Homo sapiens: one gene and its partner. The protein of the gene in region 1 interacts with the protein of each later gene in a pairwise test. Each region holds a gene or a part of one and is shown on either strand. Other genes may lie near its edges. The genes, in order: CYP4F22 and MSMO1.

The links.
Region 2: the proteins of CYP4F22 (region 1) and MSMO1 interact in binary tests that used the Homo sapiens proteins (3 or more experiments, as listed by UniProt).

Annotation. Positions count from the first base shown.
Region 1 is NC_000019.10:15,538,909-15,555,025, forward strand, and holds the end of CYP4F22 (ultra-long-chain fatty acid omega-hydroxylase), read left to right. Parts: intron 1-1,541; coding exon 1,542-1,809; intron 1,810-5,062; coding exon 5,063-5,129; intron 5,130-5,241; coding exon 5,242-5,371; intron 5,372-9,199; coding exon 9,200-9,333; intron 9,334-10,229; coding exon 10,230-10,294; intron 10,295-11,765; coding exon 11,766-11,848; intron 11,849-12,385; coding exon 12,386-12,563; 3' UTR 12,564-13,409; downstream 13,410-16,117. UniProt on the Homo sapiens protein: A cytochrome P450 monooxygenase involved in epidermal ceramide biosynthesis. Hydroxylates the terminal carbon (omega-hydroxylation) of ultra-long-chain fatty acyls (C28-C36) prior to ceramide synthesis.
Region 2 is NC_000004.12:165,324,666-165,340,782, forward strand, and holds the start of MSMO1 (methylsterol monooxygenase 1), read left to right. Parts: upstream 1-3,003; 5' UTR 3,004-3,099; exon of another isoform or gene 3,100-3,281; intron 3,282-8,674; 5' UTR 8,675-8,705; coding exon 8,706-8,960; intron 8,961-13,123; coding exon 13,124-13,272; intron 13,273-13,986; coding exon 13,987-14,113; intron 14,114-15,555; coding exon 15,556-15,710; intron 15,711-16,117. UniProt on the Homo sapiens protein: Catalyzes the three-step monooxygenation required for the demethylation of 4,4-dimethyl and 4alpha-methylsterols, which can be subsequently metabolized to cholesterol.

The DNA of each region.
Region 1 (16,117 bases):
AACAAGTAAACAAACAAGAAAACGACAGACTGCAATAAGTGCATGAAAACAAGCCCACTTCAGGACTGAGGACAGCTCCCTTCAAGCCTGCTTCACCTGTTAGTTTTTAAAAAATAATGGCTTTGTTGAGACACAATTCACATACTATACCATTTACTCATTTAAAGAATACACCTGAACTGCTTTTAGTATATTCAGAGTTGTGCAACCATTACTATAATCAATTTTAGAATATTTTCATCAATCCTCCCCCACCCCAAGAAACTTCATACACTTTAGCAACCCGTGCACTTCCCTTTCTCCTTCAAGTCTAGGCAATCACTAATCTATTTTCTATCTCTATAGATTTGCCTGTTATGGATATTTCACACGGATGGAATCATACAGACTTTTGTGTCTGGCTTGTTTCACCCAGCATAATGTTTTAAAGGCTCATCCATATTGTGGCATGTATCAGTTATGTATTTCTTTTCATTGATGAATAATGTTCCATTTACCACATAATACCACATTTTGTTTATCCAGTCACCCATCGATGGACACTGTTTCCACTTTTCGACCTTTATGAATAATGCTGCTATTAACATTCATGCACAAAGTTTTGTGTGAACATACATTTTTAATTCTTTTGGCTATATACCTAGGAGCAGAATTGCTGGGTCATACGGTAATTCCATTTTAAACATTTTGAGGAACTGCTAAACTTTATTTCAGTGGGTTTCAACATGGTATGAAGTGGTTGTACCATTTTGCTCTCCCAACCAGTGATGTATGAGAGCTCCAGTTTTTCCACATACTCACTAACACTTGCTTTTTTTTGTTGTTGTTGTTTTGTTTGCTTTTTAGAGATAGGATATTGCTCTGTTGCTCAGGCTGGAGTGCAGCCCAACACTTGTTATTATAAGTTTTGATTTTAGTCACCTTAGTGGGGTGAAGTAGTATCTCATTGTGGTTTTGATTTGCATTTCTCTGGTGACCAGTGCTGTTAAGTATCTTTTCACATTCTCATTGGAAATTTCTGTCTTCTTTGGAGAAATGCCTATTCATATCCATTGCCCATTTTAAAATAAGTTTTAAGAATTCTTTATTTATTTTAGGTACCAATCCCTTATCAGATAGACAATTTGCAAATATTTTCTCCCATGCTGAGGAGTGTAACCATTTAGTTTTAGTGATGCTACAATGACTATGCCTATGTTGAAAGTCTTTATCCCTCTTTGGGCCTGTTCAAAAATATACCCGAGACTGGGTGTGGTGGCTCAGACCTGTAACCCAGCACTTTGGGAGGCCAAGGCTGGAGGATCACTTGAGCTCACGAGTTCAAGGCTGCAGTGAGCTATGATTGTGCCACTGTACTGCAGCCTAGGTGACAGAGCAAGACCCTATCTAAAAAAATAAATAAATGAATTTAAAAATAGAGTTAATATAGGGCTTCTCTTTGTTATCTATTCAATGGGGACAGGAGGCTTATCTTAGCCAAGCCAGGGCTGTGCTATGCTAGGGGAAGGGGCTACACTCATGGATCCCCTTCTCCTTGGCAGGAAGATGAGTGATTATATCTCCGCTATCATTGAACTGAGCGCTCTGTCTGTCCGGCGCCAGTATCGCTTGCACCACTACCTCGACTTCATTTACTACCGCTCGGCGGATGGGCGGAGGTTCCGGCAGGCCTGTGACATGGTGCACCACTTCACCACTGAAGTCATCCAGGAACGGCGGCGGGCACTGCGTCAGCAGGGGGCCGAGGCCTGGCTTAAGGCCAAGCAGGGGAAGACCTTGGACTTTATTGATGTGCTGCTCCTGGCCAGGGTGAGGCTGGGCCCCCTGGAATTGCTGGCCTCCCGAGGGCTGGCCTCCCGAGGAATTGCATGTAAAATGATAAGTGTTAAAACTCCATTAGGCGTGGTGGCTCACACGTGTAATCCCAGCGCTTTGGGAGGCCAAGGCGGGAGGATCGCTTGAGCCCTGGAATTGGAGATCAGCCTGGGCAACACAGGGAGACCCTGTCTCTACAAAAAACAAATAAGTTGGGTGTGGTGCCGCATGCCTATGGTCCCAGCTACTTGGGAGGCTGAAGCAGGAGTCTGGCTTGAGCCCAGGAGTTGGAAGCTGCAGTGAGCTATGATGGTGCCACTGCACTCCAGCCTGGGCAACAGAAGCGAGACTCTGTCTCAAAACAAAACAAAACAATACACATGCTCAAAACAAAAAGAAATTCACATGGGTCTGGGATGGGGTCAGAACATGTAAGACTTACTGCGTGAGTTTTCTTGGGCTGCTATTACAAAGTACCACAAACTAAATGGCCTAAACATCAGCCATTTATTCTCTCACAGTTCTGGAAGCTAGAAGTCCAAGATCAAGGTATCTGCAGGGCTGGTTTCTTCTAAGGCCCATGAAGGATGAATCTGTTCCAGGCCTTGCTCCCTGGCTTGCAGAAGGCTGTCTTCTCCCTATGTCTGCGGATCATCTTCCCTCTGTGCCTGTCTCTGTCTTCGTCTCTTTGTATAAGGATTAGGGCCCTGCCCTAATGAGTTCATTTTGTCTTGATTACTTCTGCAAAGACCTCTCTCCAAACACGGTCATAGCCTGAGGTACTGGAAGTTAGGACTTATGAATTCTAGCGGAGGGGGGGTGGGCAGGGAACCATTCAGCTCATCACAATTGCAAAAATGAAATACATGACCTTGGGCTGGGCGTGGTGGCTCATACCTGTAATCCCAGCACTCTGGGAGGCCAAGGCAGGTGGATCACTTGAGGTCAGGAATTCGAGACCAGCCTGACCAACATGGAGAAACCCCATCTCTACTAAAAATACAAAATTAGCCGGGCGTGGTGGCACACACCTGTAATCCCAGCTACTCGGGAGGTTGAGGCAAAAGAATCACTTGAACCTGGGAGGCGGAGGTTGCGGTGAGCTGAGATCATGCCATTGCACTCAAGTGAAACTCCGTCTCAAAAAAAAAAAAAAAAAAGAAAAAAAAGAAATACATGACCTTGAAGAGATGAGACACTTCTATGGTCACTCATTGGTGTGTCTGTGGACCTTTTGGGTTCTGGATTCAAATAGTCCTGGATTCCAGTCCTGGCTCTGTCGCTTAGTGGATGTTTGACCTTAGTCATTGACTCTTCTTCCCAAGCCTCAGTTTCTCCATTTATACCATGGTGATCATAAAACCTGATCACAAGGTTGTCAGGCATCCAGTGGGATGCTTGGTGTTGGAGGCTGCTCAAGAAATATGAACTTCCTTCTTCTCCTCACTGTTGACTTTCTGTCCCTCTTTACATCTTTCTTTTCTTTTTTCTTGTTTTTTAAAAATGTAATTTAAAGTTCCAGGATAAGCCGGGCGCAGTGGCTCACCCCTGTAATCCCAGCACTTTGGGAAGCTGAGGTGGGAGGATCACCTGAGGTCAGGAGTTCAAGACGAGCCTGGCCAACATATTGAAACACCGTCTCTACTAAAAATAAAAAAAAAATATTAGCCGGGCGTGGTGGCATGCATCTGTAATCCCAGCTCCTCTGGAGGCTGAGGCAGGAGAATCGCTTGAACCCTGGAGGCAGAGGTTGTAGTGAGCCAAGATTGCGCCACTGCACTCCAATCTGGCAACAAGAGAGAAACTCCATCTCAAAAAATTTTTTTTTAAATTAAATGGAAAGTTCAAGGATACGTGTGTAGGGCGTGCAGGTTTGTTACGTAGGTAAACATGTGCCATGGTGGTTTACTGCACCTATCAACTCATCACCTAGGTATTAAGCCCTGCATGCATTTGCTATTTATCCTGATATTCTCCCTCCTCCTGCCACCCTGATAGGCCCCCCAAGTGTGTGTTGTTTCCCCCCTGTGTCCGTGTGTTTTCATTGTTCAGCTCCCACTTATAAGTGGGAACATGTGGTGTTTGGTTTTCTGTTCCTGCCTTAGGTTGCTAAGGATGATGGCTTCCAGCTCCATTCAGGTCCCTGCAAAGGACATAATCTTGTTCCTTTTTATGGCTGCATAATATTGCATGGTATATATGTACCACATTTTCTTTATCCAGTCTTTCATTGATGGGCATTTGGGTTGATTCCATGTCTTTGTTATTGTCAATAGTGCTGCAATGAACATATGTGTGCGTGTATCTTTATAATAGAATAATTTATATTCCTTTGGTTGTATACCCGGTAATGGGATTGCTGGGTCAAGTGGTATTTCTGGTTCTAGGTCTTTGAGGAATTGCCACATTGTCTTCCACAATGGTTGAACTAATTTACGTTCCCATCAACCTTGTAAAAGCGTTCCTATTTCTCCACAGCCTCACCAGCATCTCTCACTCAGGGTCTTGCTCTGTCACACAGGCTGGGGTGCAGTGATGCGGTCATGGTTCACTGCAGCCTTGATCTCCTGGGCTTAATCCTCCTGCCTCAGCTTCACCAGTAGCTGGGACTACAGGCATGCATCACCACACCTGGCTGATTTTTTTTTTGTAGAAATGGGGTCTTACCATGTTGCCCAGGCTGGTCTTGAACGCCTAGGCTCAAGTGATCCTCCCACCTTAGCTGCCCAAAGTGTTGGGATTATAGGTGTGAGCCACCATGCTGGGCACTTTCCATCTTTATTAGACAAGTTGCATACTTCCATCTTCCTGGACTAGTTCCCCCCACAGCTTGGCTTAAGAGAGAGAGGGGAGCCAGGCGTGGTAGCTCATGTCTGTAATCCCAGCACTTTGGGAGGATGAGGCAGGTAGATCACTTGAGGCCACGAGTTCGAGACCGGCCTGGCCAATATGGCAAAATTGCATCTCTACTAAAAATACAAAAATTAGCTTGGAGTGGTGGCATGTGCCTGTAATCCCAGCTATTCAGGAGGCTGAGGCACGAGAATCACTTGAACCTGACAGTCGGAGGCTGCAGTTAGCCGAGATTGTGCCACCGCACTCCAGCCTGGGTGATAGAGCGAGACTCCATCTCAGAAAAAAAAAAAAAAAAAAAGATGGGGGCGGGGAGATATCTGAGTTTTGAGGAGCCCCTAGGATGCGGAGGGTGGGATGAAGTGGGCTGAGCACCCTCTACTGCCCATTCCAGGATGAAGATGGAAAGGAACTGTCAGACGAGGATATCCGAGCCGAAGCAGACACCTTCATGTTTGAGGGTGAGGATGTGGGGTGAGGCTGGAGGAGGGCAGGAAGGGACATCATTGTCTGTAGACAGCATCTCTGCTTTCTTCAGGCAGCCTCCATTCAGATACCCTCATCTCCCTGCAGGTCACGACACAACATCCAGTGGGATCTCTTGGATGCTGTTCAATTTGGCAAAGTATCCGGAATACCAGGAGAAATGCCGAGAAGAGATTCAGGAAGTCATGAAAGGCCGGGAGCTGGAGGAGCTGGAGTGGTGAGTGTGGGGTCAGGGGAATGGAGGGGGCAGGTTGAGGCCAGAGCCTTGGGTGTAAGCCTCTGCTCTCCCACTTACTGATTGTGTGACCTCAGACAAGCCACTTTAGCTTCCTGAATTGCAATTTCTTCAGCTACAAAATGGGGGTGGTTATAGTGCCTATGCCCACCTCATAATGCAGAAGTTCTCAAAGTGTCCTAGTCAGCAATTATTGCAATGATGCTGCATAATGAACAGCTCCCAAACTTAGTGGTTTACAGCAAGCATTTGTTTCTTGCTTTTGTATGCACACATTTCTTGCTCTTGTCTGCTCATTACTCTAATTGCTGTTGGACTTGGCTGAGTGGAGTGGAGTTGCTTCAAAACTAAGAGCTGGGTTCAGATCTGCTTCATATACTCCCTTTCTGTTCTCTTTGGACCAGAGGCTACCCTGGGTCGTATTCTTCTCAAGGCAGATTCCAGAAGCACAAAAAGCCATGAAATTTAAAAGCTTTGCTTGGGCCGGGTGGGGTGGCTCACGCCTGTAATCCCAGCATTTTGGGAGGCCGAGGTGGGTGGATCACCTGAGATCAGGAGTTCGAGATCAACCTGGCCAACATGGTGAAACCCCATCTCTACTAAAAATACAAAAATTAGCCAGGTACGGTCATGGGTGCCTGTAATCCCCCCTACTCGGGAGGCTGAGACAGGAGAATCACTTGAACCTGGGAGGTGGAGTTTGCAGTGAGCTGAGATTGCACCACTGCACTCCAGCCTGGGCTACAAGAGTGAAACTCTGTCCCCACCCCCCCACAAAAAAAGATAAAATAAGTAAATAAATAAAATAAAAAAAAAAAACAAAAGCTGTGCTTGCACTAGAAGATTGCATTGGCTAAAACAAGTCACGTGACCAAGCCCAGCATGAATGGGGCAGGACATATACTCCACTCACCTGAGCAGAAGGCACTGAAGAATCATATGACAAAGGGTACAGGTATATAATTCTAATTCAGGGAGGAAGTGGAGAATCAGAACACATACCCAGTCTCTACCAGATTCATGCTATGTAGAGCTGATTCTGGGTGATGAAAAGAAAACACAGCATTAGGCTGGGCGTGGTGGCTCATGCCTGTAATTCCAGCACTTTGGGAGGCCGAGGGGGGTGGATTGCTTGAGCTGAGGTGTTTGAGACCAGCCTGGGCAACATGACGAAACCCTGTCTCTACAAAAAAATACAAAAATTAGCTGGGTGGGGTGGCGCATGCCTATAGTCCCAGCTACTTGGGAGGCTGAGGTGGGAGGACTGCTTGAACCCAGGAGGTGGAGGCTGTGGTGAGTCAAGATTACGCCACTGCACTCCAGCCTGGGTGACAGAGTGAGACCCTGTCTCAAAAAAAAAAAAAAAAAAAAAAAGAAAAGAAAAGAAAAGAAAAGAAGAAAAACACAGCCGCAACATTAAATAGCATCAACTCACACAGTGAGGAGGTTCCTTTCGGTTCTATTTCAACCTTTTGCCTTATGGCCTCAGGGGGACATGCTCAGTGGGGTGCTACTGTGTCCTGAACACTTTGCTAATCTTCCTTTTAAACAAGTGGAGAAGATGTCTCAGGTTGAGAGAGTTGGGTGGGAGTTGGTGTGTAGACACAATTTAATAACACACTACTGCTTTCACAGTGGTGTTTGTATGGATGAATACCTTTATGCCAGGGATGCTGTTTGCCCTTTATAGCAACATGAAGTTTATTTTTTTTTAAGACACAGGCTGGAGTGCAGTGGCATAATCATAGCTCACTGCAGCCTCAAACTCCTGGGCTCAGGCAATCTTCCTGCCTCAGCCTCCTGAGTAGGTGGGACTATAGGAGTGTGCCACCACAACTGGCTAATTTTTAACATTTTTTTAAGAGATGGGGACTTGCTGTGTTGCCCAGGCTGCTCTCAAATCCCTGAGTGCAAGCAGTCCTCTTACTTTGGCCTCCCAAAGTGCTGGGATTATAGGTGTGAGCCACTGTGCCCAGCCATAAAGTTTCTTTGAAAGAGAACCTGGGCCAGGTGCAGTGGCTCATGCCTGTAATCCCAGCACTTTGGGAGGCTAAGGCGGGTGGATCACTTGAGGCCAGAAATTCAAGACCAACCTGGGCAACATGGTGAAACCCTGTCTCTACTAAAAATACAAAAATTAGCTGGGCGTATTGGTGTGTGCCTGTAATCCCAGCTGCTTGAGAAGCTGAGGCGTGAGAATTGCTTGAACCTGGGAAGCAGAGGTTGCAGTGAGCTGAGATTGTGCCACTGCACTCCTGCCTGGATGAAACAGCAAGACGCCATCAAAAAAGAAAGAGAACCTGCTAATTTAAAGAAACTAATCTAATCTAGAACATGAACCAAGAGTTATCATTAGCCCAATTTTGGGCCCTAAAGTCCAAGGGAAAAAATATTAAGTAAATGATATTATAAGGAGATAATGCACTTTTCTTTTCTTTCTTTTTTCTTTTTTTCTTTCTTTCTTTTTTTGAGATAGGCTCTCACACTGTGGCCCAGGCTGGAGTACAGTGGCATGATCATAGCTCACTACAGCCTCCTGAGTAGCTGGGACCACAGGTGTGTGCCATCATGCCCAGCTAATTTTTTAACTTTTGGTAGAGATGGGGTCTCTCTTTGTTGCCCAGGCTGGTCACGAACTCCTGGGCTCAAGTTATCCACTTGCTTCGGCCTCCCAAAGTGCTGGGATTACAGGTATGAGCCACCATGCCTGGCCTGCACCAGTTTTTTTTTTTTTTTTTTTTTTAAGACAAGAGTCTCACTCTGTCACCCAGGCTAGAGTGTAGTGGTGCAATCTCATCTCACTGCAACCTCCGCCTTCCGGGTTCAAGCAATTCTCTTGCCTCGGCCTCCCAAGTAGCTGAGACTACAGGTGCACGCCACCACACCCAGCTAATTTTTGTGTTTTTTAGTAAAGATGGGGTTTTGCTATGTTGGCCAGACTGATCTTGAACTCCTGACCTCAGACGATCGCCCATCTCAGCCTCTGCAAGTGCTGGGATTACAGGCGAGAGCCACCACACCTGTCCTGCAGCAGTTTTTTAAGTACAGAAATGGACCATATAAACTGGCATATTGCTGTTGCCGTGAGTCCCCTTGGCTGTCCTGGCACCTCGCCTAGGTGCCCCTGGACCTCCACATAATTCATCAATTAAAGGCTTAATGCTGGGCCCAGCAGAGGGCCCAGTGCTAGTGCTGTTCTGAGCGGTTGGTGCTCAGATACTTTGCATCCTAAGTATTAGTACTGGCCGGGCACTGTGGCTCACGTTTGTAATCCCAGCACTTTGGGAGGCCGAGGTGGGTGGATTGCCTGAGGTCAGGCGTTTGAGACCAGCCTGGCCAACATGGAGAAACCCTGTCTCTACTAAAAATACAAAAATTAGCCGGGTGTGGGTGCGCATGCCTGTAATCCCAGCTACTTGGGAGGCTGAGGCAAGAAAATTGCTTGAACCTGCAAGGCTGAGGTTGCAGTGACCCGAGATGCGCCACTATGTTCTAGCCTGGGCAACAAGAGCGAAACTCGGTCTTAAAAAAAAAAAAGAAAGAAAAAGGAAAAGAAAAAACAAAAAAACCACTAAATATTAGTACTTCCCACCTGTGCATGAGACAACTGCAAATGGCAGAAATTGGGGCAAGTCTAAAATCCTGGACTGGTTTCTTGCCCAGCTGCCCCTGAGAGAGAGAGAGAGAGAGAGAGAGAGGGAGAGAGTGTGTGTGTGTGTGTGTGTGTGTGTGTGTGTGTGTGTGTGTGTGTGTTTTGGGGAGGTGGTGCCATGGTGGCTCGGCCTCTAGTTATATCTCCATTCTCCCCAGGGACGATCTGACTCAGCTGCCCTTTACAACTATGTGCATTAAGGAGAGCCTGCGCCAGTACCCACCTGTCACTCTTGTCTCTCGCCAATGCACGGAGGACATCAAGCTCCCAGATGGGCGCATCATCCCCAAAGGTGCCTACCATGTTCCGCCTGCTGCTGGTGCACTGCCTCCAATGATGTAGCTGCTCTATTGTCCACAGGGGCCTGGCTATGCCTGCCCCAGGTGCACTATCCCTGCAGATGGGATAGCTCTCTGTGTGCCTGTTGCTTCTGGGGTGTTGGAGAAAACCCAGTTGTGTGTGCAGGGAGATAGAGCCGGGTGAGTCCAGGTGGAAAGGAAGGAGGCAGTGTCGCAGGGATGGGCCTGTGAGGGTGCAGTTGGGGAGGGTCAGTTTCATTCAGTTGCCAGTTACTCCCTGGAGACCAAGCCCTGCCTTGGTTGATACAGGGGACCCTGGCTCAGGTTTTGAGTATTGCCCTTTCTGGGGGAGATACAGCAGGGTGCAGACATTCCCAGGCGTATGGAATCAGGAATGGGCTAAAGGGAGAGACAGGGGCTGGAGTAGCTCCAATATGGAGAGGAATGCAGGGAGGGCTGCCTGGAGGAGGGAATGTGGGAGGTGAGGCTTGGAGTGTGGAAGTGAAAGAGTGAGCATGTTTATGGAGTAGAGCCTCAGGATGCAGATTTTGAAAGGCCTTGAGTGCCAGGTGATGGCGCTTGAACTCAATCCTGGGGGCAGCAGGGAGCCAAGGTAGGTGTTTGAGCTGAAGAGGAGCAATGTCAGATCTGCGAGTAAGAAAGATCCCTATGTGGCCAGCTTGGCAGCCAGAAAGAAGATGATAGGTTCCTCTTAGGGAAAGGTGGGAAGAGTGGATGGGGCAGCAGAATTTTTTAGAGAAGGATGGACAGAAGGTGGTGGCAGATGGCTCATGGGAACATCATGGCTCTAGGGAGACCCAAGTTGGGGGATGTTTCTGGAGGAGGCCCTGGCTCCCCTTGGCCCCACTGATCCCATCTTTCCCCACAGGAATCATCTGCTTGGTCAGCATCTATGGAACCCACCACAACCCCACAGTGTGGCCTGACTCCAAGGTGAGTGCCTGCCCCACTCCTCCCTGCCCTCAGGTCCTCCCCTCCCCTGCGCCCCAGGGAGCCAGCGAGCAGGGCTGGTTGCAGGGCCTGAGTGCGCACACCCCTCCCCACTCCGCATTTAGCCATTTATTCACCCACTGATTGTTAATTCATTAGGGCAGAAAATATTTATTGAGCACCTACTGTGTGCCAGAGTGTGTGCTGGGCTCTGAAAATAGAGGATGATACTGTCTTTGCCTTTACAGGGCTCACAGTGAAGTTTTGGGGAAGACAATAAGCAAATAAATAAGATTTTGGGTATTGATACATGCACAAAAGAAAGAAAAACTGGGCCAGTTCCGGTTTACAGGTGCAGTGGCTCACACTTGTAATCCCAGCACTTTGAGAGGCTAAGGTGGGAGAATCGCTTGGGCCCAGGAGTTTGAGACCAGCCTGGGCAACACAGCGAGACCCCCCATCTCTACCAAAAAGGAAAAAGTTGGCCCAATGTGGTGGCTTGTGTCTGTAATCCCAGTGCTTTGGGAGACCAAGATGGGAAGATTGTTTGAGGCCAGAAGTTCCAGCTCAGCCCAGCCTGGGCAACACAGTGAGACCCCATTTCTAAAAAAAAAAAAAGTTAGCCAGCCATGGTGATGCACATCTGCAGTGCCAGCCACTCGGGAGGCTGAGGCAGGAGGATCGCTTGGGCCCAGCAGTTTGAGGCTGCAATGAGCTATGGTTATTTATTTATTTATTTATTTGAGACTGGGTCTTGCTCTGTTGCCCAAGCTGGAGCGTGTGCAGTGGTGCGATCTTGGCTCACTGCAACTTCTACCTCCTGGGTTCAAGAGATTCTCCTGCCTCAGCTTTCTGAGTAGTTGGGATTACAGGTGTGTGCCACCATGCCTGGCTAATTTTTTTGTATTTTTAGTAGAGATGGGGTTTCACCATGTTGGCCAGGCTGGTCTTGAACTCCTGAGCTCAGATGATCCATCTGCCTTGGCCTCCCAAAGTGCTGGGATTACAAGCGTGAGCCACCGCGCCCAGCCTGCAATGAGCTATGATCGCGCTTCTGCACTCCAGCCTGAGTGAGACTCTGACTCTAACAAACAAACAAACAAACAAAGACAGACAAACAAACAAAAAAAAAGAAAAACAGGTGGAGGGGGCACTTTAGCTCGAGTGGTTATGAAAGGCCTTGCCGAGGAGATGTTTGAGCTGAGAACTTAGGGGATGAAGGATCAGGGAGAAGCCTGTTCTAGGCAGAGGAAACAGCAAGTGCAAAGGCCCTGAGGTGGAATCTCACTGGTGCGTGTGAACAACAGAAGGAGGCAGGTGTGGCTGCATTGCAGGAAGTGCAAGGTGGAATGGAAGAGGTGGCCCTGGGGTGCTCCCCATCCATCTTTACTGACCCCCAGAGGCTCAGGGAAGGGGGCCAGGCTGGGATGTCTGGGGCAGCCCCCAGACTCATCTCCAGGCTGTTCCTCCCTAGGTGTACAACCCCTACCGCTTTGACCCGGACAACCCACAGCAGCGCTCTCCACTGGCCTATGTGCCCTTCTCTGCAGGACCCAGGTAACCCCTCTATTTCCCCTAGTCCAAGCCAGCTGTGTAGGAACAGAGGCAGGGAAAGATCAGGAATGTGCCTCTCAGGAGCAGAGATCAGATGGCACCCAGGCGTCCTTTCTGAAGACCCAGCACCCTCTCCCCAATGCGCCAGGAGGCCCCCAAATCAGACTCTGCAATAGCATCCTGGGTATTGAGCACCAACGGTGTGTCAGGCCCTGAGTTCTGGGCTCCCACGCTCCCATTGGCTCTATGATGCCTTTGTCCCCGTTTTTACAGATGAAGGAACTGAGACTCAGAGGGGGCGCTGTGTATCCAGGACACACAGCTAGTAAGAGGCTGTACTGGGATTCAGACACTCAACCCCAAGGTCACATTAATTGAGCGATCCGTGGGGTCTCACTTTAACCCTCACCCAGCGTGGGGTTTCACTTTAACCCTCAGCCAGCCCAGGATGCTTGCTTCATTTTCAAAGGAGGCATGTGACCCCCGGGGACCAGTGCTCACACAGAAGCTGGGCCTGAGCCCTGTCCCCTCTTCCTCCAGGAATTGCATCGGACAGAGCTTCGCCATGGCCGAGTTGCGCGTGGTTGTGGCACTAACACTGCTACGTTTCCGCCTGAGCGTGGACCGAACGCGCAAGGTGCGGCGGAAGCCGGAGCTCATACTGCGCACGGAGAACGGGCTCTGGCTCAAGGTGGAGCCGCTGCCTCCGCGGGCCTGAGCGTGGGCGCGCCCCTGCGGCTCCCGAGGGTCCAGGCCCCGCCCCCAAAGGACCAGGACTCGCCCCAAAGATCCCGAGGGCATAGGCCACCCCCCTCGAAGTTCAGGTTCAGCTCCTGGATGACCAGGCACCGCTGTTGAGCAGCCTGGTGGTACTGGCCACGCCCCTCAAGGCAAGGCTCCTCCCCTTAGGGGGCCTGATCCCGCCCCTTGAGGCTTAGGTCCCGCCCCCTGACTTCTCGCACCTGTCCTGTTTGAGGGACCAGGGTCGACCCTGCCCCCTTGGGCTCAGGCCCCGCCCCCAGGATCCTACGGATTGAGGTCCTCAGGCCACGCCCCTGCAGATCCAGGTCTCCAGGCCTTGCCCACTGAGCCTTCAGAGGACCTAAGACCCACCTATGACTCAGGGCCCACCACACCCCACCCCCCCCCAACTGGCTGAACCCCTGGCAGGCTTCCAAACTGAGGAAAGCTGGAGCCTGACGTCAGAGCTTTTAACTCGGACATCACCCTCCTGAGGCCCTCAGCTCATACGGGCAGACTGCTCAGGCGTGAGGCTGGATCGTAGGGTTCGAGGCTGCTTGCTTTTGTTGTTGTTTTGTAAACTCAGACCCTTGTAAGCCCCTTCCTTCCTCCCTTGCCCAAAGATCCTTTGCTGAGTGTTCTGTTTTTGCAGAATAAAAGCAAAGGATGCAGACTTACCCCACCCTCCACCCCTAGCTCAGCCAGATCCTTACACGTGGAGCCCCCAGCATGGGAATGAGGGGCTCTGCAACTGAGCGAAGCTGCGGGCTAGGAGGCTGGAAAGCCATTTATCCTAGGACATAAACTCAGATTTTGGGGGTCAGTTTGTGTGTTCATTTATTTCATCAACAGATCACATATTGTTTGCTGGCACTGCTTCAGAACCACAGGCAGGCCCTGTTTTCTGCCTTCTTAGGGGGTGGGGGACAGATGTTGAACAAATAATTCCACGTGTAAAGGTTTATTTACAACCCAGGACAGGTGCTCCAAAGGAGAGGCCCCGGGTGCTGGATGAATATAGCAGAGGGATGGGGATGGGTCAGGGAGAGCTTCTCCGATGCTGGAATGGAAGTTGAGTGGGTGACAAGGGGAGGGAAGAGTATTCCAGGCAGAAGGAACAACATCTGAGAATACCCTGAGCTGAGGGAGAACAGAGTGTGTTTGAGGAACTCACCAGGGGCCAGGTGGTTGGATCTGGGAAGTGGGGGCAGAATGAAGGAAGGGGCCAAATGCACAGGCTTTATGCTGAGGGCAATAGGGAGCCATGGAGAGTGTGTGAGCGGGATCAGGACAGGACATGGCCAGATCTAGGGCTGGCAGGGAGGTGACTTGCGGGGTTGGGACCCTGGGAAAGAGGGAAGCTGAGGTCCAGACAACAGGAAGGGCCAGGATTGGGGTGACTATCTAGCAGTGGGGGCTGAGGGGAGGGAGGTGGTAAGGGTGATGCTCAGGTATTTGGCTGAGGGAACTTGATGGTAGAGTAGTCCCTGATATGGGAATATAAAAGATGGGGGCCAGGCGTGATGGCTTACACCTGTAATCCCAGCACTTTGGGAGGCTGAGGCTGGAGGATTGCTTGAGACCAGGAGTTAGAGACCAGCCAGGGCAACACAGTGAGACTCCATTTCTACAAAAAATAAAAAATTAGCCAGGTGTGATGGTGCACATCTGTAGTCCCAGCTACTTGGGAGGCTGAGGCAGGAGGATCACTTGAGCTGAGGAGTTTGAGGCTGCAGTGAGCTATGATCACACCACTGCACTCCAGCTGGGGCAACAGAGCAAGACCCTGTTCCAAAAACAAACAAACAAAAAAAGGTGGGCAATGACAATGTCAGCAATTTTATACATATAAAATGCTACACTAAAGGAAAATGATACTGCTATTATACCACATATATAATATATATATATGCACTATATATGCCATCATTATATATATAGTGGTGGTATAATAGTGGTATCATCTTCCTTTTAGGTAGCATTTGCCTGTAGACTATTTCCATCTAGGTCACTAGAGACAATAATATTAATTCAACAGGCCGGGTGCGGTGGCTCATGCCTGTAATCCCAGCACTTTGGGAGGCTGAGACAGGTGGATCACCTGAGGTTAGGAGTTTGAGACCAGCCTGGCCAACATGGTGAAACCCTGTCTCTACTAAAAAATACAAAAATTAGCCACGTTTGATGGCGGGTGCCTGTAATCCCAGCTACTCAGTAGGCTGAGGCAGGAGAATCGCTTGAACCTGGGAGGTGGAGGTTGCAGTGAGCCGAGATTGTGCCACTGCACTCCAGCCTGGGCGACAGAGTGAGATTCTGTCTAAAAAAAAAATTAATTTACCAAATATTTCTTGGGCAATCTGCCGTGAGACAGGCACTGTTTGAGCCCTAGGTTCCCAGAGTTTACCTCTAGGGAGGAGATATGATAAATGATAAATAAGTAAAGAAAGAAGTAAATTCACACAGGGCCTTTTCTGTGACTTTTTTTGTGACAGAAATGGGGAGTTCTGAGCAGAGGAGGGACAAGCTTTGTCATACGAACTTTTTTTTTTTTTTTTTTGAGACAGGGTCATGCTTTGTTGCTCAGGCTGGTGTGCAGGGGTGCAACCATAGCTCACTGCAGCCTTGGCCTCCTTGGGCTCAAACGATCCTCCTGCCTCAGCCTCCTGAGTAGCTGGGACCACAGGCACACACCACCATGCCCAGCTAAGCTTTGTATTTGTTATCGAGACGGGGGTCTTACCATGTTGCCCAGGCTGGTCTTGAACTCCTGGTCTCAAGCGATCCTCCCACCTCAGCCTCCCAAAGTGCTGGAATTACAGGTGTGAGCCACCATGCCAGGACTTCCACAGGACTTTGTGTGCTCTGTTAAACAGAGACAGTGTGAGCAAAGATGGGACTAGGCAGATCAGTTAGGGGTGACTGCATTCGTCCAGGTGAGACATGATGGTGGCTTCAACCAAGCCGGGGTCTTTAGATGTGATCAAGAGCAATTGGATTCCAAGGAGGAGTGACTGTTCACAAAGGCAGTGCTGTCAGGCTTGGTGGTGGATAAAACGTGAAGTTTGAAAGAAGTGGGGGACACTAGGTTTGGGCTTGAACATCTGGAAAAATGGAACTGCCATCAGCTGACGTGGGGAATGCTGAGTGGAGTAAGTTGTTTTGTGGGAGATGTCAGGATGTCAGTTTTGGTTCAGAGGAATTGGACATGTCAGTCGAATAAACGGTTCTCCAATTCAAGAGTTTTGGGTTGGGCATGTATATTTGGGAAGCCTTAGTATAAATATTTTATATATTTTTCCAAAAGCTAGTGAAGCGATTTCAAATGGGGGTGATTTTTCCTACCAGATGACATTCGTTGTTATTTGGAAACATTTTTGGTTGTCACAACCGGTGGTTACTATTTGCGTCTAGAGGGTAGGGACCCAGCACTCTGCTAAACATTCTACAAGACAAAGGATACCTAGCTCAATAAAACAAGTAATTATCCAGTCCCAAAGGCAACAGTTCTGCTAATTAAAAACCATGAACTGG
Region 2 (16,117 bases), on another chromosome or scaffold:
ACCATCTTGGTTTAGTTTTGTCTTAAGCACACTGCCTCCTACTGACTTCCATGGCTGCCAGTGTCTCATTTTGGAGAGGAGGCTACGCTGGAGAATGGAACTATATTTTGAGTCAAGATTCTGGGGTTCTAATCCTGGCTTTAAGGAAAAAAGCCATGTGGTATATTGGAAAGCCCATGGGCATAGAAACAAAAGGGTTCTGGGTTTGCAGCTCCCTCTATCAATTGCTAGCTGTGACTTTCAACACATTACTTAACCTCTAATCCTTATTTTGTTTTTAAAATGGCAATAGGAGTGTCTGTGTCACAAGGTTGTTGCGTTTGAAAGAAATGATGCATGTTAATATGCTTGAAATCCAGCGGGCCCTCAATAAATTACAGCTATTGTTCCCTGAGCCCCCTGTTAATCTTCATTGTAGGGAAATAAGTGAGTTGAGCTGCTGCATCAGCATTTTTTTCCAGCTCTAAGCCTTTAAGGTTTAAAATAATCTGACCCCTCCATACACCTACACCTGCTCTGATTTAGAAAATGTAATACTGTGGTAGAATTCCAAATCAGAAATAATTGCTGACATTTACTGATCATATCTTGTATGCCAGAGACTGTGCAAAGGGCTTTACATACGTTATCTCATGTAATCATCATAAATAACTCTTCGAGGTGTAGGTATTATTATTTCACAGAAGTACCAGATAAGACAGAGAAGTAACTTATCCACTGCTAATAAAATGCCAAGCCTAGTAAGTGTGGCCCGATAGTGTGTGCTATTGATGCTCACCTGATAGAGGATGGCAGGTTTGGGCAGAGAGAAAAGTTGGGTGGCAGTGCAGTCATCACACAACCAATAGGATGGGGAGCTCTGGAGCTGGGATGGCCAAGCAAAGTAGCCCTACATTGGTTTAGGGGATTTTATACCCGTTTCAACCAGTTACTTGACTAGCTGTTGCCTAGAAAGGGGGTATACCCGTGGGGAGAGGTGCTTCTCTTTGGCAGTACTCAGCAGCTGGAGGAATGCCTGCTTAGGTCTTGAAGAGGGGGATCTGGGTGGTGTGCCACAGCATCCACTACAGGACCAACAGATTCATATGCCCACTGCACAGTATACACTGAGACAGCAGGGTTTGCAGAAGAGAAAGAGTTTAGTGATGGCAGGGTGCCGAGAGGAGATGGGAGGAAACCCTCAAATTCATCTCTCTGAGGAGTTCTGTGCTGGGGCTTTTAAGGGGATCCTGGAGGGCAATGGGCTGGAAAATTAGGGTCCTCGATTGGCTGGGGTAAGGAGGAATGAAACCATCAGGATGTGGGAACTGCATTCTTTGGTGAGTCAGCTCCTTGTCAGACCAGCTGAGTCAGTAGTTTCATCAGTACGAAGGACCTGAAAGGTTATCTCAAAGCACAAACTTAACGTTTCATAATGTTCAAGTTGTTGTCTATAGAGCAGTTAGGGGAAACTATAACCTTGTAACAGAGTCTACATGATTCTGAAGCAATAGGCAAACAATTATGAGGAAGGGGTCAGACAGCAAGCTGACCTAATTATTAATCCTCAGTGTGCTGCAAGCTTGGTTTAATTTCGTTCCCCCCACCCCTTTTTCCCAGATTAACTTCATAAAGTATATAGGCATGGTTTCAGACACCACTGTAAAGGCATCCTAAAGACAGGGCTGACTCTGACAACCAAGGGACAGATCCCATTTCTTTTCATTTGACGTGACCGCTGTCATGATACTTTACAAAGAATGTGTGTGCCAAACATGAGGGATAGACGAATAAGTACAGGTCACACTGAATCTAAAAAAGACACTTTTCAAGAGGGAACTTCCTCAAGGAGATAGTACCTGAATTGATGGGGCGGCATGGAGATGGCTGATTATTCCAGGCAGAAGGGCCAGTTTGAGCAAAAGCATGGAGGAATGAAACAATAGTATTCTGTTTTCAGAAGCTGTATATATTTGACACAATATACACATAATCAAAACATGTGTACGCCGTAAACACAATTTTTGTCAATTATACCTTAATAAAGAAGGAGGAAAAAGGGCCTTCACTAGCCCAAATGATGCCCCTGTGCGGTTTTTTCTTTAAAGGCACCTCTTCCGTTAAGTGAAAGTTTTAGTATATTATCACATCTGTACAGTTTTATTATTAAACCCCAGTACACAATATTTTAATGTTGAGAGATGGTGTAAACTGAGCTTTAGAGCTGCAAAGACCTGCGTCAAGCCCCCGCCCCCGCCCCCGCCCCCGGGCACTCATCGTCCAGCACAACAATTGCAACAACACCTGGGCGTTCTCTGCCCATGTAGCGAGGTCAAGGTCCTGGGAGCCGAACTCTCCCTTGATGTTCAATCTTTTTAAATCTTTCCCAGCCTTTATTTCTCATCTGCAAAATGACGATAATCGCATTTGAAATTCTCCGTTTTCAAAATGCAGGAATTTATTAAAGGATACGTAGGCTGGGGAAACAAGGGAGACGAAAGATCTAAATCTAAATGGTAGACCAGAAAAAGGAAGGCAAGGGTGTCTGGAAACACAAAACAGTCAACATAGATTTTAAGACTCATCTATACTCTCTTCTTCCCGGGTTTGGGAACTGCGGTTGCTACACAGGTCACATTTGAAATAAAAGTCCTGGGACGGCGGCCGGCGCGACACTCTCCCCCGCACAGCGCAGGCTCTCACTGGGAATCTGCCGGGACCGCAGTTGCCAAGGCGACTCCGCGCTGCAGGGCGAGGCGGCCATCCGTCTGTGCCCGCCCCCTCACGCCGTGGCGCGCTCTCACGCTTCCCCGCCTCCGGGCGCTCCGCGGTGCCGACCATTGGCTGGCTCTGCAGGTCTCACTATCCTCACTCCATCCGCGGAGCCAATGGCTGGGACCGCCAGGAGCTCGTTCGCGCGAGTCACACGATGTCGGCAACTGCACAGACCAATCACCGCGCCGAGAAGGCGGGGCGGGAGCTCTCGCAGGCCAATAACGACAGGACGGGCCGCCTGGCCCACCCGGCTCCACCCCCAAGCCAGGCGAGGCAGGTTCCGAGGTTGGAACACCTGGCGAGTCCTCGGTGTCGGTGGCCGGCAGTCATCTCGCGGCCGTTCAGGTGAGGGGGTTGGAGGAGTGGCTCATGAGCGAGGAAGGGGGAGCAGGCGGGCTCCCACCCGGTGCTCCGTGAGATCGAGGGGAGCGGGTTCTGGGTGCGGATGCACGCGCTGGGCGGGACGCTGGCAGTGGTACCCGAGACGGGGCGGAAGGAGACTGGAGTGAAGGTGGGCCTAGGCTAAGGTACGTGCTAGAAAGGATGAAAACGGAGTGAAATTCTTAAGTGATGGAACTAGGCTAGGGCATGTTTCTTGCCCTTTAAAATGTGTTGTCTTCGGGAGACAGGACGTAGAAGATAGTTGCAGCACAGGGTGATAGGCTGGCGAAAGTTATACAAAAGCAGGAACCACTAGAAGGAGGTAAGATGTAGTGTGCTTTGGGAGTAGTGGGGTTGGGAAGGGCGTCCGAGAGGAGGTTACTGAAGGATGACTAGGAGTTGAATGGGAGGACATCACCTGTAAGGGAACGATATTTCCGTGGGCAGAGAGGAATGAAGCAGTAGCAACCATGAGTGATCAGATACTGCAAAAATGTGAAGTGTAGGATGGCGAGAATGTAAGAAATGAAGAGTGAAGAAGTCTGGAAGGGCCTCGTGTGCATCAATCACAGCGGGGCTTGATCTTTATGCTTAGGGCAAGCACTCCCTTGAACTTTGAGTGTTTTAAGGAGGTTATCTCTGATGTTTAAATTTATATAGATCGTGGCATTGCATCTTAGAAATAAGGTTTAGGAAGGGCAAGCTTGGAGGCAGGGCAAGTCCAGAAAATGAAGGAGCTGGTGAAATCCGTGTTAAAGTGCCAAAGGACAGAGACTGGCTGACAGCTAAACTTCAAGGTTTCTGAGAATCCACAAATAACTAAATTTATCTAGTCAACCTGTTCCAGAACAGGCTTCCAGTCATTTAGGTTGCCCAAGAATGAGTAAAGGAAAAGGAAATTCAATTTTCCAAGACCTTGTTTCCCCTCTCCTCTTTAATTCCTTGTTCGGTTAGCAACAGTATATCCATTCCCTCGCTCCTTTGTGAAAAGTAAATTCCTGAATGTTAACTAAACCAAGTGTTTCTAAATTGGGTAAGAGTTTGAAGACTTAAGGCAGCAGAATGGGAGAGACTTAAAACGTTATGTCTGAGAATTAGGCATTAAAGGAGGCCTAGTATTTGGGCGGGGGTTGTGAGGAGCACATACTGAACCTTTGGACCTGTTGAGTGAGTTCATGTGCCTCTGAACTCTCTGACTGGATATGACCAGTAAACTTGGATAATTAGATCCTGGAGTTTAGGGGAGAGGGCTAGAGATAGAGATGATGGATGTCAGCATATTTTTAAAACAGAAAATAGTTAAGATCACCCAAGACAATCTGGAATCGTTAGAAGGGAGTAAGGAAGGCATTATTGGGAAACTTTCCAGCTTCAATTCTCATATTTTTTCTAATCTCCTGGTTGAGTCTTTGGAGTTGCTGTTCTCTCTATGCAAAACCCCTCCCTTGACCCTCTCTCCCTCACTCTATTTTTTAATTTGTCACCTCCTTCTCCTGTTCTAGGTCTCAGTTTAGATAGCACCTTTCTCTAGAAGTTCATAGCACTGTGTATTCCCCCCTTTATTGTTCTTATCACATAATTTTTGATGGTTTGGACACTAGTTGTTATTCCTCACTAAATTTTATGTTTTATGAACTCAGGGGTAAGGGCACCAGCTAGCACAATGAATGCACAATACTTGTCAGAGTGAATGCATTTAAGTTCCAAGAACCAAGGAAAGGCGGTATTTCAAGAAGAGAAGTATCAAATCTTCCAGATTAGTCAAATAAACTCCAAAAAAAAAAAAAAAGGTTTATTGGATTTGGCAGCTGGAGATCCATAGCGATTTTTTTTTTTTTTTTTTTTTTTTTTTGAGACGGAGTCTCACTCTGTCGCCCAGGCTGGAATGCAGTGTCGTGATCTCTGCTCGCTGCAACCTCAGCCTCCCGGGTTCAAGCAATTCTCCTGCCTCAGCCTCCCCAGTAGGTGGAATTACAGGCATACGCCACCACACCCGGCTAATTTTTTTGTATTTTTTTGGTGGAGATGTTTCACCATATTGGCCAGACTGGTCTGGAACTCCTGACCTTGTGATCCGCCCACCTCAGCCTCCCAAAGTGCTGGGATTACCAGCGTAAGCCACCACACCCAGCCTCCTTAGTGATTTTAGTAAGAGTAAGTTCAGTGCAGTGATGACAATAGAATGCAGATTGCAGTTGCTAGAATATAAACAGGAAATAAGAAGATAAAGACAACTCGTGGAATACCTTTTCATAGAGCTTAGGTAAACTGTAGGAATTATTCTCCTTGTACTCTAATACTTATTATGGGTTTTATTTATAATTATAGTGTAATATAATGGATGAGTGCATGGGCTTCCCCACTTAGCATTTGTTAAGCATTAACTTAACATTAAGCATTAGACTTTGGGCAAGTTGCTTAATCTTTCTAAACCTCAGTTATTTTATCTATAAAATGGTGATAAAATAATACCTACCTCACGAAGGTGTGGTAAGGATTAAAGTGAAAATGTAGAGAGCAGGTAGCATGCTTTGAACACAGTTCTTGGCACAGAAAGTGCCCAATAATTGTTAGTTTCTTGTAGCTATTACATGCCAGGTCCTGTGCTAACTAAGCGCTTTATATGCATTGTCTCTTGGACTCATTGGAAGACCTACTGTTTTAATTTTTGCTGCTGATAAAACTGCATCACAGAGAGGTTACCTAATTTGCCCAAGGTCACAGGACAGGACTAGTAAGTGGTCTTGGTTCATTATTGTCAAATTTACTAATCACCTTGAGAAAAATTAAGATTGGATGGTTGCCTTATTTTACAACTTAGAAGATGATTGAAGACATTTTGGTGCAGGTGGGGAGCCAGATTGCAAGTAGCTCAGTGAGTTGTGTGGGTGAGTTAAGCAACCTTTTTTATTCTTTTTTTTTGAGACGGAGTTTTGCTGTTGGTGCCCAGGCTAGAGTGCAGTCACAGCTTACTGAAACCTCCACCTCCTCATTTCAAGCGATTCACCTGAACTCCTGACCTTAGGTGATCTGCCCGCATCAGCCTCCCCAAGGTGCTGGGATTACAGGCGTGAGCCACCATGCCCAGCTGAGTTAAGCAATCTTTATGTAGAGCTCTCCTTTGAGAAAGAAGTTGGTTGGTTCAAAGAAAGATAAATGGGACAGTGGCTTGGAAGAGGTAATGGAGGCTAGGAAGGTGTTTATCAACAAAGGAAGATGTAGGCTGGGCGCAGTGGCTCACACCTATAATCCCCACACTTTGGGAGGCTGAGATGGGAGGATTACTTGAGCCTAGGAGTTTAAGACCAGTCTGGGCAACATAGGGTGACCCCTGTCTCCACAAAAAATTAAAAAAATTAGCCAGGCGTGGTGGCATGTGCCTGTGGTCCCAGCTACGAGGGGCTGAGGTGGGAGGATTGCTTGAGCCTGGGAGGTCGAGGCTGCAATGAGCCATAATTGTGCCACTGCACTCCAGCTTGGGTGACAGAGTGAGACCCTGTCTCAAAAAAAAAGAAAAAAAAAAAGAAAAGACGTGAATGTGTTTTTAGACCTGAAGGAATGGATTCCATGAAGGGAGAAGGATGAAAGATGGGAAAGGATAAGTGATGGACAAGTTCTTGAGGTAAGATAAGAACACAGGAAGACTAGTCAGTCTTAGAGGAAAGAATGAATGAGCAAAGAAATTTTAAGGCCTGTAATGACACAGGATGGAACACTATAGTCACTGTGGTGTAAGTCATTTGAGATGAGTAGGACAGAAGGAGGACGGCCTGAAGTGAATTCAGATGCCTGGAGGAGTTGGCTAGGTTCTCAATATTCCTTCTGTAGAATGGGATAAAAGGTCAGTTTGAGAAGTGTTGGGGAAGGGGACTTTTAAAGCACTATTTAGAATGCTTCTGAGGCTTTAAAATACTCATTTTTAAAATGGTCCAAAAAATTCATAAATTAGAAGCAGCAGTGGTGAACATTTTTAGGAAAGTGACCCTTGAGAAGTTTATTTTTTGGTTAGTGACCTATTGAGCTTATTTATTAGGTAAGTAGAACATGCTCATTTAAAAAGTTTAAATTGTGCAAAAGACATATGTCAGATTTTTTTTTCTGTCTTCCATAACACTATTTCCTACCCCGCCGCGCTCTGTCTTCCGTAACACTCTCCCCTACCCCGTCGCCACTCTGTCTTCCATAACACTGTCCCCTACTCCACCACACTGTCTCCTACCCCGCCGAGCTGTCTTCCATAACACTCTCCCCTACCCCGCCACGCTGTCTTCATTAACACTATCTCCTGCCCTGCCACACAACTCTGTTTTCCTAGAAGTCACCAGTGTGAATTTTTCCCTTTATCCATATGTACATTTTTTGTTTCTGTGTGTCTGTGTATATACATATGCATAAAAGTGCATAGATAAAATACATATCCTTTTCAAAAAATCTTAAGTGGGGCTCTTGCTATGCATACTGTTCTGTAACTTGTTACTTGGATTAACACTGTATCTTAGACATCTTTCTATGTAGAGCGTATAGATCTTCCCTGTTCTTTTAAATGGCTGTATAATTGTCTATGGAAGGACTTAATTTATTTAACCCATACCTTGTTGATGGCTTATTTGTGTTTTGCTTTTATTTTTTCCTCTTTGTTTTTGCTGCTACAAGCAATGCTTCCTTCCATCTTAGCGGATCTGTCTTTGTACCCTTGAATGAGAAAGTTGCTGGATCAAAGGATGTATTCATTTTGAATTAGGTGTTGCTAATTTTTCCTCCAATGATACACTGATGTATCCCCCCTGCCCACAGTGTGTGGTCATGCCTGTTCTCTCACCCTCTTACCAGTACTGGACATTAATAAGCTTTTAAAGATTTGCTACTCAGGCTAAAAGTGTCTCTTTGTTTTAGGGTGCATTTCCTCATTTAATGAAGTGAAGATTCTTCCTTGTTTAGTGACCATTTGCCTTTATTTTTCTGTGAACTGCTTGTGAATGGCATTTGTCGTTCTTCTGTTGTCTTTTTAGTCTTTTTTCTAAAGCACACTTTGTAGCCCTTTGTTGTAAAATGTTGGAAATATTTTTCCCAGTTTGTCATTTAATCTTTGACTTTGTCTTTCTATTCCCCAGTAGGAGGTACTTAATTTTTATATACTCATATTTGGCAGGCTTTTTCTTTATAGGTTCTTTTGGCTTTAAGTGATACTTTTAAACCCAGCTATTGCTCATTTAAATTAGAACCTTTTCCATGAGAACCACACTGACGATTTCTTTAAATATAGCTTGAAAAAATTTTTCCCCTATTGTTCTTTTAGCTATTGTTCTTGAAAATAATGTGTTTTTTAAAGGAATATCTACAAATAGAAATGGTGATGATATCCAGCAAATGTTTTAAAATGGTGTAAAACCATTTGTACTCCTTTAGTAATTTTTTGGTAAAAAATTTATACTCCTTTAGTAATTATCATTTTTAAAATGATCAGAGGATGCATTTTTTAACTGTTTTATTTTTTGAAAGCTCATTGTTTAACTTATTATATATGTATTCATTTCTACAGAATTATAAGGCTGTCTGCAGAGATTTGAAAAATGGCAACAAATGAAAGTGTCAGCATCTTTAGTTCAGCATCCTTGGCTGTGGAATATGTAGATTCACTTTTACCTGAGAATCCTCTGCAAGAACCATTTAAAAATGCTTGGAACTATATGTTGAATAATTATACAAAGTTCCAGATTGCAACATGGGGATCCCTTATAGTTCATGAAGCCCTTTATTTCTTATTCTGTTTACCTGGATTTTTATTTCAATTTATACCTTATATGAAAAAATACAAAATTCAAAAGGTGAGTATAAGGGACTAGAAATAGAATATTATCATTAATGTTGCTGAATATTTTAAAAGTACATAGGGCTTTGTTTTGTGAGGCTAAAGCAGTGATATCCAATAGAAATATGAAGCCACGTATGTAATTTTAAATTTTCTAGTAGAATACATAGAAAAGGTAAAAAGAAATAAGGAAATTAATTTCATAATGTGTATCATTTAGCTCAATAAATGTAAACTATCGCTGGGTGCAGGGTCCATGCCTGTAATTCCAGCACTTTGGGAGGCCAAGGCAGGAGGATTGCTTGAGGCCAGGAGTTCAAGACCATCCTGGGAAACATAGCAAGACCCTGTCTCTACAAAAAAGATACAAAAATACCCAGGCATGGTGATGTAAGTCCTAGCTACTTATGAGGCTGAAGCAGAAAGATTGCAGCACTATACTCTAGCATAGGCGACAGAGTGAGACCTTGTCTCAAAAAAAATAAGAAATAAATGTAAATTATTATTTCAATCAGTAATCAAATTCTAAAAAATACTTAATGAGATATTTAATAAGTCTTTGCAATTCCGTGTGTATTTTACATTAATTTTAGTCTATCTCAATTTAGACTAGCCATGTTTAAAGTGTTTGGAAGCCACATGTTACTAGTTGCTCCTGAATTGAGCAACACAGTCCTAGGTCATTATTGATAACATTTCAAGAATACTTTGTTAAATTGGGCTTTAAGTAGATGTGATGGTTATCTAACTTAAGTTTATGAATTTTAATGTTTAAGCTAGCTGGAAAGGAAAGGTGTGGTGATTTGCGCATATTTTGCAGTTCACCCCAACTCTATGTTCCAGTAAATCTAAGGGACTGTTAATACACTACGACCTTGATCAGGGCTATTCAAGTTTTTTTTCCCTAAATATATGGTAGGTAGTTCTGCAGCATTCGTATCATCCCAAATAAGGAGGTGATGCTCCTCGTTTCTGGATATTTGCTTCATTGCACTAAATGTTGAGAGGTCGCTATGTACATGACAAGGTGAAATCTCATATGTAGCCTGTGAGCTTGACGTGAGAATTTGGAGTAGCTTATTAGAAAGATGAATTATTTGTTAGAATTTGTAAGCTGATGATAGTTTCTAGTGTTTGCTGTTTACTTTTCATAAAAAGTCATTCCAAACTAAAACTCAGGGGCACACAGTCTTGGTAGAAAGTAGACCATTGAGAGTATTCATCTATGGAAAGTAATTTACATTCACTTAGTACAATTGGCCCTCCATATCCATGGGTTGTTGTATCCATGGATCCAACCAACTGCAGATCAGAAATATTCAGGGGAAAAAAATTGTGTCTACACTGAACATGTACAGTCTTTTTTTTCCTTGTCATTATTCAAAATGACAACTATTTATAGAGCATTTGCATTTTATTAAGTATTATAAGTGCTGTAGAGATGATTTAAAGTATACGAGAGGATTCGTGTAGGTTATGTCAAATACTATGTCATTTTATATCAGGCACTTGAGCATCTTCAGATCTTGGTATTTGCAGAAAGTCCCAGAACCAATCCTCAAAAGATACCAAAGGACAACTGTATATATTTTGGATGGCAGTCTGTACACATTCTCTGTTATCATTCTGTTAGTTTCACAGCCTCTCCCAGAGTCTCACTTTAAGCAGGTATTAATATTAGTCCTCTCTGGGGATAATGCAGGGGTCAGATGACTGTGGACTCCAGGCCAAAGGAGAAAAGAGCAAAGGGTAAAGGCGAAGGAAATAAAAAATAGGAGGGCCAAAGGAGAGTACTCTGTGACCCTCAATTAAGGTCACAGAAGCTCCAAAGTGCTTTTTAGGAAAGCAGCTGCTTTGAAAGGCAGAATTAAGTTTGGACGTCTAAGTTCTAATGCACCTTTAGGGTGATTGTGGCTGCCGTGTTTCACCCAGTGATTTATTTATAGGGCTTATTCATTGTAATTCATTGTATGGCTGGCCAGGCAAAAGCATCCTTTTTCTCCTTCACTGCAGTTTGTAACTGACTCACTGGTTAGAAGTAGTAACCTTTGCAGAGAGACAAAGGACTTTCTCAGGCAAGGGTATATGAGCAGCTTTAAAATATAATGTGGCAAAGGAAAGAATAAGCTGTAGTCTAGTTGGTCAGAGCTAGTTGTTTATGAACAGATTGTAAGGCTGGATAATTTGACTTCAAGTCTGTACTCAGCAAGTCTTTATGTTTCATAACCATTAAAGTCCATGCTTTGAGCATTTTTGATAAAAAATGTGATTTTAAACCAGGACTAGTTTTCACAAGTTAAAGGAGTTTTAAAAGAAACCAAAATATTGGTACAAATTAATTACAGGTTTATGCATTTCGAAGGCAGATACCCTGATTAACATTGAGGGTATCAATTGTTTAAGATAAAATATTTGAGAATTATATTTAACATATGCAATAAATGTTTTTATTCTTAAAATTGTCGAAAAGAATAGAAGAAGTTGGTGGTGGTGATGAAATAGTACTAAAGACTTTCTGCTTTCAAACAGAACAGACAACTGGAGAGCTAATGCACATCCTTGCTAGTTAGGCGAAAATTTCACAGGAATGAAAAAGTAAAGCAGACTTTGCAGGATCTATTTCTTTAAAAAAAAAAAAAACATACATCTTAGTAATTCTCCAAAAATTTTCCTCAAAGATAAATGTACTAAAAATATTATTTCTGAAGTTTGTGGCCCTTGTAAAGGTATTCCTTTATATTAAGTACAGTTATGCATAAAGAAAGTAAAATATGGTAAACTTTCATATTGCACTAGGTATGAATTTGTATTGCTAACTGTCTTTGTAACTAATTTATGTATACTGTAAATGGTATAGCATGTGATTTTATTATAGTTGATTAACTTTGTAATTTCTGTAACTGCATCGATATCCCAGTCTACCTGGAAAATTAAGTCTATTAACCATAGTTGCTGTAGGAGACAGTACTATTGCCAACTGAAGCCTGAATCCTTCATTTATTTTGTCCCCAATTACAGAGTGGAGGTTTAGAGGAGTGGGGTTAGATAATGCTCAGATTAGAAATACAAAGGCAGCTGTCAGATCCTCCCATTTTATTGTTGAAGAAACTGAGTTGTAAACATCACAAGAGCTAGTTAACTGGTGAGTAGCAGCCCTGGTATTAGAGCACAAGTCTCTGGATTGATTCTTAGTTCAGTGCTTTTCCTATTTTTGTCAGGAAGATAACCCTTAAAGAATTTCAAGAACAGAGCTGGATCTGGAGACCTAGATTTTAGTTAGTCCAACTTCTGCTAATAACTGCGTGTGTGACCCTGCCCAAGCTGGTTGACCTCTTTGGGCTTCTGCTGATGCGCAGTAGTTCCCGTACTTTGGATATCGTGGTTCAATTAAAAGAGTTTTGTTGGCGGATACCTGAATTTTTCAGCAGTGACATTTAAAACAAAGCAATAACTGATATTTATTGTCACCATCGTTTTGTTAAGCCCAAAGCACTTTTTTAAGTGCAGTCCTATAAATTGAATACATTTAGTTAGTGTTTGTTTTGTTTTGCTTTGTTTTTTATAATGACTTGCTAAGCAAATGGGTATCCTGATGAGGTCTTAACGAACATCCCATGTTGATCTAACTTTTCTCATTTTGACTTGAATCTGTGAACTCCATAATCAGGACATATCTGTGTACTTCTCAACTCAGAGAGTTTATAATTCTGTCATTGGATTTGAACAAAAGTGCATTTATTTGTTGGAATGAATACCACTGAGTGCCTGGAAGCATCGACTTACTGTGTAAAAGGCTTCCAATGCTTCGTATACAACTTCTTCAATTGTGGACACCCAACAGTAATCTTAGCATATTATATTTCTTCTTCTCTGAAACTTCTGGTAAAAGAAGTGAAGTGAATGATCTGTGGCAGCAAAGACTGGAGAATTATTCATTCCATAGTGTTTCTTAGTTTGTTTGAGATCATCATGGCTAGGCGCATCTGTTAACAGTTTCTTCACCTGAAGTAGTGATAGTAGTTGTCAAGAATTTAGAAGGCAAAGATTCCTGAGTCTTAGTTATATAAAGTTAACATAACTGACGTAGAATTAAGGTCCAACATAAACAGAGAACAAATTAGGTCAAGTTAAACTCTGATAGCAGAGACTAATATTAGATATTGTGATTTTTCTTCGTAGGATAAGCCAGAGACATGGGAAAACCAATGGAAGTGTTTCAAAGTTCTTCTCTTTAATCACTTCTGTATCCAGCTGCCTTTGATTTGTGGAACCTATTATTTTACAGAGTATTTCAATATTCCTTATGATTGGGAAAGAATGCCAAGATGGTACGTAGATAAAAATTTGGCTTTTACACCCAATTGTGGCTTATTCAGTTAAGTTATACTTAATGTTTACCCGTTTTCTTAATTTTAGTTAATGTTTGTTCTAAACTTTGGAAGTAAATAAATAGTAGAAAAGTAAACCACAGTAAAATCTTAAAATGTTTCCATTTTTACATCTTTTAAATATTTTATTGGAAGGTGAGCTTCTAGTATCAGAAGTTTCCATAACGTCTTTTGTATGTTTATATACATGTATAAGTGCTTATGTTGACAAAAATATATTACATTTTAATTTTAAAATGAATGAAATATATGAGAATCATTTATGAGGTTTATAGAAATTGTGTTTACATGAACAAAAATATGTATGTGTATATATATATATATATATATATACACACATATATATATACACACACATATATATACTCATGCGTCACTTAACGGATATCTCTTGAGAAAAGTGTCATGAGGCAAGTTGTGTGAACATTGTAATGAAATGAAATTGGTCTAATGGGCAGTCTCTTTAACCTTATATCAAGTTATGTAGCTGTATCTGGTGGTTTTGAGAATTTATTTATGAATATATCCAATTAGGTCAACCTGGTAAGTGGGTGGGTGGTTTTATGTAATGTCTCAAGCAGTGATCCCAACTAAAAGTCTGGATAGTTTAAGTAAAAATTATTTCTTACACATTACAACATTTTTATCTTAAAGGTATTTTCTTTTGGCAAGATGCTTTGGTTGTGCAGTCATTGAAGATACTTGGCACTATTTTCTGCATAGACTCTTACACCACAAAAGAATATACAAGTATATTCATAAAGTTCATCATGAGTTTCAGGTATGTGAGAGTTATATTTAATTCTTTCTGTTAGAGGCAAAATGTCTATTTTAATTGCCTGAGCATTTTTCTAAAATTGTTGGTGACGTTTTTATTTTCTTTTCCTTTGGCATGATTATTAAGAACAATACACACACATACAAACAAGCCATTTCTACACATTGTTTTCATTATTTAAATTTCATGGTAAATTGAGATCTGAAAGAAAAATATTATATGAAAGTTCGGACTTCCATCCTTGTGGACAGTGCTACACTGGCACAGCTAGATCCTCACATTGCTAACTCCCACAAAAACAGTAACTTCTATGAGCACTGCTTTTTTTTTTTTTTTTTTTTTTTTTGAGATAGAGTTTTGCTCTTGTTGCCCAGGCTGGACTGCAATGGCATGATCTCAGCTCACTGCAACCTTCACCTCCTGGGTTCAAGCAATTCTCCTGCCTCAGCCTTTCAGGTAGCTGGGATTACAGGCATGCGTCACCACGCGTGGCTAATTTTGTATTTTTAGTAGAGACAGGATTTCACTATGTTGGTCAGGCTGGTCTCGAACTCCTGACCTCAGGTGATCCACCCGCCTTGGACTCGCAAAGTGCTGGGATTACAGGCGTGAGCCACCATGCCCGGCCAATTAGAATTGCTTTGATGTAGCTTTGTCAACTGGTTATGTGAGTATGTTTTGCATTGACCGTGATTACATGGTGTGCCAAATCAAGCCTCTCTTTATTAGAAGAACAAATATAAATACTTAAGTCAAAATTAGAGTTCAAGTCAATTATTTAATGCCTTTATCTTAAACCATCAAAGACAGCAAGATTTTATATCCCTAGACTTTTGATGTGGAGTAAGGTATTTTTATTGAGAATTGCTAGTATTATTTATAAGTGTATGACTAGATAAATCATCACTACATATAGAATCAATATAACTTTGTAAAACTTTATGCATAAATAGGATATATATATTAGTGAAGTCTCCAGTGAAGCAGAATCATTGGGGTATATATATGCAGAGAGAGATTTATTTTAAGGAATCAGCTCATGCAAGTGTGCGGCTGTCAAGTCTGAAATCTGTAAAGCAGGCTACAGACTAGAAATCCAGGTAAGAATTGTTGCAGCCTTGGGTCCAAATTCCATGGAGCAGCAAGTTGGAAACTCAGGCAGGGTTTCAGTGTTGCAGTCTCGAGAATCCTTCTTCAGGAAACCTCAGCCTTTTATCCTGAAGGCCTTCAAATGATTGGATGAAGCCCACCCTCATTATGAAGGGTAATCACCTTTACTCAGTCTACTGATTTAAATGTTAACAACATCTAAAAAATACCTTCACAACAACATCTAGACTGGTATTTAATCAAACAGTTGGATATCATAGCCTAGCCAAGTTGACACATAAAATTGACCATCACAATAGCTAAGAAATTAAGAATTTCTTATCTGTTTGTCTTAGGCTCCATTTGGAATGGAAGCTGAATATGCACATCCTTTGGAGACTCTAATTCTTGGAACTGGATTTTTCATTGGAATCGTGCTTTTGTGTGATCATGTAATTCTTCTTTGGGCATGGGTGACCATTCGTTTATTAGAAACTATTGATGTCCATAGGTGAGTATTAATTTCTGTTCAGGTATAAAGCATAATGAAATATATTTATTTTCATGGCCATAAGATTATCATATTTCTAAGGAGACTAATAGGAGAAGTTAATCTTCTTAATGTTATATTAAGAAAACATAACTGTTGGATAAAAGTTTAAATAATAGATGTTTTTACATTCTAGCCTATGCTGTTATAATTTTTATAGTGATAATGTGTTATTAGGGCAAGTATATATTCAGGACCAGCAATTTCCTTATCCTTCTGTAATAAACCTAAACTTAACTCATATTTGAAAAAAATATCAAAGCATTCAGCCTTCCTTGAATAAGACTTTCTAATCTCTACTGTTCAGCACTGATAAAGGCACTTGCAAGATGAAACTACTACTTGTAACACATACATATTTCAAATGC